Linked DNA regions of Homo sapiens. The protein of the gene in region 2 purifies or fractionates together with the protein of the main gene of each other region. This does not show direct contact. Each region holds a gene or a part of one and is shown on either strand. Other genes may lie near its edges.

Region 1 (3,594 bases), on a different chromosome or scaffold from region 2:
TTCTTTGCATGTAGTATTATAATACCTATGATATTTCAGTACAGTTACTTGTTGACATGTCTCCTCCTGCTAGACAATTAATTCTGAGAACAAGTTTGCTATCTTATTCATCCTTTTATGTTCAGTAAATAGCACTGTACCTAGCAATACAATAAGCATACAATAAATATATGACAAATGAAGCTATTATGAAAAAAATCTAGCACAAATACTCCCCTTCCAACAATCAGATTCAGTTACATACTTTAAAATTGTGGTGAAAGACTAAGAAATACAAACTTACTATAGATATTCAGAAGTGAAAGTAATGGTTTTATGGCTTACTAAGAAAATAAAATATCCATTAATTAGATATTTATAAATTTCAGTTTATTATAATCATAATTGGATAACTACTATGTATTCAATTATGATGAGCAAATATTAGTAAAATTTTCTTCGTAAATCACAATTTTTAAAACAATATTATGTTCAGAATGTTAGAGAAAATTTAATAGTGAGAACAGATCTGATAAAAATTAAACCAAGTGTAAAACATTCACAGTAAAAAGACTGATCACAGAATTAATGATATAATATCTTACTTCCAAACTAATGTTAGTTGGCATAACACCTATGGGTTAAGTCCTCCAATACCTACTTAGCTAATTCTCTAAATTAATTTTTCTCTGAAAAATACAGCTAGTATTTTTTCTGTATTTCCAATACTCAATGTGATTTAAAAATTCTTAATTCCAATAATAACGACAAAAATAATCACAGCTACCACATAATGATTATTTAACATGTTACTTACCATTTTGCATATATCACATTCAATCCTTATAACAATTATCTATCTTGATATTGGTGTCTCCTTGAGATAGCCCAACAAGAAAACTGAGCTTCTGAGAGATTAAGTTACCTAAAGTGTCACAACCAGTAAGTGGAAAGGGAAGAACAAACTGATTTCAAAGCCTGTCCTTTCTACAACAGTAGGCCATCCCTCTTAATCTTTCATGAAATATATTACTCATTCAATTTGTCCAGTATTAAAATTAAGTTGACATCAAACCAGCACTGTCCCAGTAACCAGAGCATGTGGACACCCAACTATTGTCTGCTTACTCCTCTGCTACACTCATTACACTTTCAGACCTCCTGTAACTATCCATTAGGAACGTATATACAGGCCTGCTATGTGAAACCATTTGGCTATAGATTCAACTACTATACAGAACATTAAAGAACTTTCTTTGCTAACCACCCATGTTTAAAAAACACTATTTCATTAGGATAGTTCACATTAATATAAAAAAATAAATCATTTCAACTATACCTCATCCTGAAGTTCATCACCACTTTTAATAGAAGCAAGCATATCATATAAAGTACAGCAAAGATCTTCTACTCTTGGCACTTCAGTCATTTCCTTCAAAGTTGAATTTAGGTACTTTTCAACTTCACACCACAAAAAGGAGCCATTTGTTTTTTCCACAGGCTTGAGTTCTGGGGTGCAAGCCTCCTGGAGATGTTCATTCAGAAACTTCTTATAATCTAGGCTTATAGTTTTCTGAGTTTCACCATTTATTGGCAGTTCGTCAAAGTGGTCCAAATCATGCATGTCAAATGAAAATGCTAAATTTTTACCAAAAAAAACCCTATCGCCATGTTCTTTTTCTGTCATCTGCACAAGAGCAGTAAGATCATCTTGACTAAAATGAGAAATAATTCGATTAGTAGCATTACAAGCTGCAGTGGCAGATGATGAAGGAAAGGGGCCAAACATCTGTTTGATAGCCTTTGTTTCCTTGTGACCAACAGAGTCCTTCAAGTGAAATGTCATGAAGAGAAATGCAGCCCCACTTTCAATTGCTTCTCTCCCATTATCAGTTCCAACTATTCAAAGACAAAAGAAACAGTATTAGCTCAATTGAATCATGGTTCAAGTTACGATCTTCCAAAAAATTACCACAAATATTCTCCTGAGTAAATCTAACAGTCAAATCATAGCAATAGACCAGGTGTAATGGCTCCATATAATCCCCACACTCTGGAAGGTCAAGGCAGGAAGATCACTTGAGTCTAGGAGTTCAAGACCAGCCTGGGCAATATGGTGAGAACCATCTCTACAAAAATTTTTAAAAATTAGCCAGGTATGGTGGTGTGCACCTGTAGTCCCAGCTACTCAGGAGGCTGAGGTGGAAGGATTGCTTGAGCCTGGAAGGTTGGGGCTGCAGCGAGCCATGATTGTGTCACTGTACTCAGCCTGGGCAACAGTGTGAGACCTTGTAAAAAAAACAACAAAAACATAACAATAAAGACAGATAGCCAATTTAAGGAGCAGGAACCAACCCATTCCTGAAGAACTATTTATTTCCCAAAGAACTATTTTAGGTAAATAAATCATTATCAGTAATTATTATGTATCTAAGTGCAGAAACTACCTAGTAACAATCCTTACAGCTTCTTTCTAAAAACAACTTGAGACACTAGCTAAAACTCACTTTAAAACTAATTTTAAAGATTGATTTGATGAGCTAGTTAAATAAACCAAAGTAAGGTACAGAAAACAATCTGAATTATAGACTTTTGGAGCTTCAAGGAAACCTCAAATATCTATAATTTTCTTTCCAATTTGTACCATAAACCTGAGATGGCAAGAAATACTTCTATAGTTCTCATTCAAAAACATTTAATACCATCAAGGATATTTATTAAGCTGAAGATAAAGTTAGTCATATTATAAAATAAAAAAGAAAGCTCCTGTTTAAAAGAGGCTAGAAGTAAATATAAGAAGAATCAGCCTCTAATTTATTTAAGGCATTTTCTCATATCCAATTTTCTCAAATAAAAAAAAGAATCTGTATTTCTGACATGGGTTTCAAAGAATATTCTTAGAGAAGAAAAGAAGAATTTAAATCTTCAAAAGGCCCCAAAAGCTATGTGACTTACCTAAATACTGTTAAAGTTAATAATGTAATGAATACTGGTATCTTTCTAAAAAACATGACTCTGCAGTTGCTCCCGCCTGTAATCCCAGCACTTTGGGAGGCCGAGGTGGGTGGATCACCTGAGGTCAGCAGTTCGAGAACAGCCTGGCCAACATGGTGAAATCCCGTCTTTACTAAAAATACAAAAATTAGCTGGGTGTGGTGCCACACACCTGTAATCCCAGCTACTCGAGAGGCTGAGGCAGGAGGACCGCTTGAACCTAGGAGGCGGAGGTTGCAGTGAGCAGAGATAGCATCGCTGTACTCCAGCCTGGGTGACAGAATTGAGACTCTATCAAAAAAAAAAAAAAAAAAAAAAGAAGGAAACATGACTCCAGTATCATTATTCACAAATCTTCCACAGCTTACTATAGCTTGATCCAAGCTCCTACACTGCCAGAAGCTGACCCCAGCATTTTATTTTCCAGTCTTATTGGCTATTATATATTTCCTGCTCCAGCCAAAAAGAATTTCTTCACCAAAAACCACGTTCTACCCCACTCTATGCCTATTTCTATATCATACTGATTCTTCTTCAAGGCCTCTGATTGTTCAAATCCTACCCATGTTTCAGAATATAGCTCAACTACCTCTTTCAAGATGAGTACAACGTTGAGTACAT
Region 2 (4,184 bases):
TTCATTTATCTGAATTCTATCATGTTTCTTTTTTTGCATCAGCCTGACTACTAGAATTTTTTCTGAACAAGGTACAAGCAAACAGCAGGATGCATTAACAGAAGGCTTGATCTTCAGTGCATTTTCTTAGAGGTAAGTCCCCGTCTATCTCCAAAAAGGTAAATGGCATAGATATCTAGAGATTGTCCTTCATATGTGATCAGACAGGAAATGAGAAAGTCACCTTGCTTTCACATATTATATATTCATCACTGTAGCCTTTTCTTAAGTATATTTTTCCAGACTTCCCCTAAGCTGTTGCTCATTCCCTGTAACAGCCAAATCAATTGACCATATTGTACTGGTTTGCTTCAGTGTGTTTGTTTACTAGTTGAAGCCTGCATTAGGACAGGATTATTTCATGGTGCTCGGTTCCCTGGCCCTCCTCCAGCTTTCTCCTCTCTCAATCTCTCACTGTGCAAAATAGCAATCTTTCTCTACTTCCGAAAGCATGAGCATCCTGAGATTTATCTGACTATCACTTAATTCTCTCTTCTTGTGAGATTCTCTGCCTTCACTCTTTTAACTCTACGGTCTGAACTTAGGTAGGTAAGTGCCCATCACAAATAACCATGCCAAGTTAATCTTTATCCCTTTTGGCTACCAGTTATAGCCTTGGCCAGTGCTCTTCCCTTTTTTTGTCCTGTTATTGTGTTGCAAATGAAGCATGTGCAGCTATTTGAGCAAGTACAAAAATATAATATGAACATGTTCTTATCTAAAATGTCACTTTTTCAGTATTCTTTTTGGGTTGTTCATTGTTAGCCAAAGTTCCATTGTCATAAAAATTACAATAATAAACCACCCTGAGTCTTGTAATTTCACACACAGCTTCTACATTCTCTAAGCCACTAAAATCCCATGGTTCCTAATTAAAATATTCAAAGGTGAAAGTCAAGTAATTTCCACAAGATATATTAGTTCCTTTACTTATGTTTCCAGGGTTAAAAAAGAAATCCTTTGCCAATAAAAAAGGAGAAGTTTTTGAGTGTATAGTACTTCAAAGGGCATTCCACAGTGTGTTATTTTCTTTCCAGAAAATTCTAACACTATATAATTACTTTTGTATGGAAAATGAATAATTTAAGCCCCTAATGCTAAAAACAGCTAGACAGAAACCATCCAAATCAGATAGGCCTTTCCTGAAACCAGATGAAATATCGAACTAGAAAATATCTGTGTGAGAACAGCCCATGGAACAAAGCTCTTGAATTATTATTCAATAGAGAGGAAGCATGGTAGGGGAGAAAGTTACATGAAAAAATAGTGTTTTCTTGTCTTTGTGCCGGAATTTTTGTGGGTCCCACGCATCACAGAAACTGTAATGTTGATTGCACCCCAAATGTCATAGAAAAATACGTATCAGAAATGCATCTAGGAGCTTCCAAGCTTCTGACAACAATAACGGCAAAAACATCAATTAAGCTTCATCTGTTGCAACAGAAATGCATTGATAAAGAAAAAAGCGAAAGCCCACCTGCATAGAAACTAAACCGCAGCTACTCCTCCAATTCGAAGAAAAATGAGCTGCACTTCAGTCGCCAGTAGAACTAATCCCAGCAAATATAGCTAGTGGGTTTGTGTACTGGGGGAGGGGGACTGCGAGCAGAGCACACCTCATCGCCCTCCCACCAAAACTGGTCCAAAAACGTGAAAGCATCCACGCCGCATGACCTCGCTTAGCTGGAAGAAAGCGGTGACCGCGACGTGCGGCGGGGGCGGGTGGCCCTGTCGCCTCCCCTTCTCAGACCCCCCCCCCCCACGCCCCCAGTCTTTTGCACGGGTCTCTGGCTCCAAGCTCTGGGGCTCGGAGACCTGAGCAGGTTCTTTTCTCTTCCCAGGGTGAAGAACCTCCTAAAGATACTGTAACCGGAGTAACTCCCGCGCTGGCAGCGTCTCAACAGCCCGGAGTGAACGAGCTGACCCCACCAGCGCCGGGACCCACGTCTGGGTCGGCCGCCCCCGCCAGCCCCACCCCCGAGCCTCCCCAGCCTGCGTCCCCAGCGCCCCGCACGCAGTAGGGGCTTTCGGGGCATGTATCCCCTAGGGCTGACTTTCCGCTAAGTGAACAGCCATGTTAGCCTCCTCCGGGCGTAAATCCACCAGGGTGAGCCGGCCAACGGCGGTCAGGAGCGCTCACCAGGTCCCCTCCGCACCTCCCCCCAAGGCTACGACTGTTTCCAAACTCCTGGGCGCACCCAGCCGGGCCCCTTGCCCTCTCACGGTTCAGCACCGAGGACAGCGGACATACTTTTCTCCCCGGGGGGTCCCCGCCGCCAGGAAGGCGGTGTTGACAGCGTCCGCAGGGCTGCAGGTGTCCGTACCGCGCGCCCGCCCGTCCGCATCCCCGCGGCACCCCTGCGCGCCCACCTCCCTTCCCCGCCTCGCGCAGGGCAGCCGCGCGGCGTCTTACTTTTCTGGCTGGAGTAACCTGGATAATAGCCATAGTAGCCGGTGATCCGCAGGATCCGGTCCTCGATAGTGGCCACCCCGTTGGGGGCCGCCTTGACATCCATAGAGAGCGCGGGGCGACGGCCCCGAGTGCGGCGGGGCGGAGAGCGCAGCGCGGGGCCCGGGAGCTGGTGCAGGTGCCGGAGCCGCTGGTGCTGATCTTGCAGCTCCTGCTCCCGCGCCCGGGCTCTGACTCCACCGCCCGGCGCAGCACCGGCTCCGCATCACAGCGGCGGCGGCGGCGGCGGCGGCGGAGCGGCCCCCACTCGGGCCGGCCTCTCCGTCAGCCTGGCAGCTCTCCCGCGCGCCACCCGGAGCACTGCTGCCCGAATAGCGCCCCCTCACCTCCGACGCCCACCGTGGCCGGGGGCGGGTGTGGGCGCCCCACCTGGTCGCCAGCTTTCATCATTAACCCTTGCGCGATCCTTCCCGAAAACTAGACACCCCAACCCCACCTGATGAAAGGGATGTTTGGTCAGTGGGGCGCGAGAGGAGAAGGCGACGGTGGCCAGGGGCTCAGAGAAGGGTGTTGGGAGTGGGAGAAACCCAAGAGGGACTCATAGCTGTTAATGCGAGGCATTAACTCTGTCGCTCGGGGAGAAGACACTTCTGGGGCGCCCCGGGACTCGGTCCACGCTTGGCGTCTACACCACCTCTGGTCTGCTGATATGCAAGCATTCCCCCGCGTTAGTCAGTCCTTGCAACTTGTCTAGAAGACTGGGAATCTTTTTTTATGAAATGACAAGAAAATTAGTTCCCGGCAGGTGGTATATGGAGTGATTATCCAGGTTTTGCAGACGCAAAGACTGTAAGTGTTCAAGCGCTCAAGTCTGACTGTCCATACGGACCCTCCATCCTGCCACTGAAAAATGTCAAAGGCTTAGAAGATTCAGCTGCACACAGCACGTTTATTTTTCCAATTTCAAATGCTCTGAGGAGAAATGATTTTCTCCTTTATTGCCAAAAATATCAGGAGGGAAGTCCTTCAAACTGTAAATATCTGGACGAGTGAAAGTCTTAGCTACAGTCTAGAGCCTTTCCATTAGAGCAGAACATCCTTGAAGCTGTGTGTTCAGAGCGAACACCCTCCCCTCAGGTGTGGGACTCTTCTGCTTTAGCCAGAGACCCAATGGGTTAGGGTCAGTGAGCAGTGGAGACGATTCCTCTGTTCATAGTCTGCAGACACAGCTTCCTGCAAATAATAATAATAATAATAATAATAATAATAATAATAATAATAATTTTCAAAGTTTCATCTCAGAAATGAAAAGGTGGAGGTGGAGGGTTAGTGGAGGGGAGGGTCAGCTCATCAGCTTAGAGGCAATTTAGGTCCACCTTCCGTGCAGAGCTGGCTTAAGACATCCCTGCCAGGTTTCATATTACTAAAGCTTAGGGAGAAGAAAAAAAGAGAAACAAAAGTCGACTTCAATGCCCCTCTCAGAAACCTCCAGAGAACCTATCACACCATCCTGCCTCCAAGCATTTTCCACATTGTGTGTGGGCCCTTAAGAAGGAAGAAATATGCAAATTTTTTTTCTAAAAGGTAAATTAGGTTTAAGCATATGAAAACGCAATATTAAATTTTACAATATGTTTTGGGTTTTCATCCAAACACAAAGCTTAGCACGGGATCTTGAGAGTGGAGTCAATCTGAGATTATTGTGGCTGGAAGGAGAGTTCATAAAGAAACCAAT

Evidence for each region. Proteins that work in one complex are often made in the same cells at the same time.
Region 1: the proteins of SLC35F4 (region 2) and ASCC3 purify together in Homo sapiens (affinity purification with mass spectrometry; one large-scale study listed by BioGRID and IntAct). This does not show direct contact.

The regions. Positions count from the first base shown.
Region 1 is NC_000006.12:100,846,830-100,850,423, forward strand, and holds part of ASCC3 (activating signal cointegrator 1 complex subunit 3), read right to left. Parts: intron 1,879-3,594; coding exon 1,319-1,878; intron 1-1,318. UniProt on the Homo sapiens protein: ATPase involved both in DNA repair and rescue of stalled ribosomes. 3'-5' DNA helicase involved in repair of alkylated DNA: promotes DNA unwinding to generate single-stranded substrate needed for ALKBH3, enabling ALKBH3 to process alkylated N3-methylcytosine (3mC) within double-stranded regions.
Region 2 is NC_000014.9:57,863,271-57,867,454, forward strand, and holds the start of SLC35F4 (solute carrier family 35 member F4), read right to left. Parts: upstream 2,823-4,184; 5' UTR 2,556-2,822; coding exon 2,453-2,555; intron 2,408-2,452; exon of another isoform or gene 2,385-2,407; coding exon of another isoform or gene 2,291-2,384; intron 1,730-2,290; exon of another isoform or gene 1,517-1,729; intron 1-1,516. UniProt on the Homo sapiens protein: Putative solute transporter.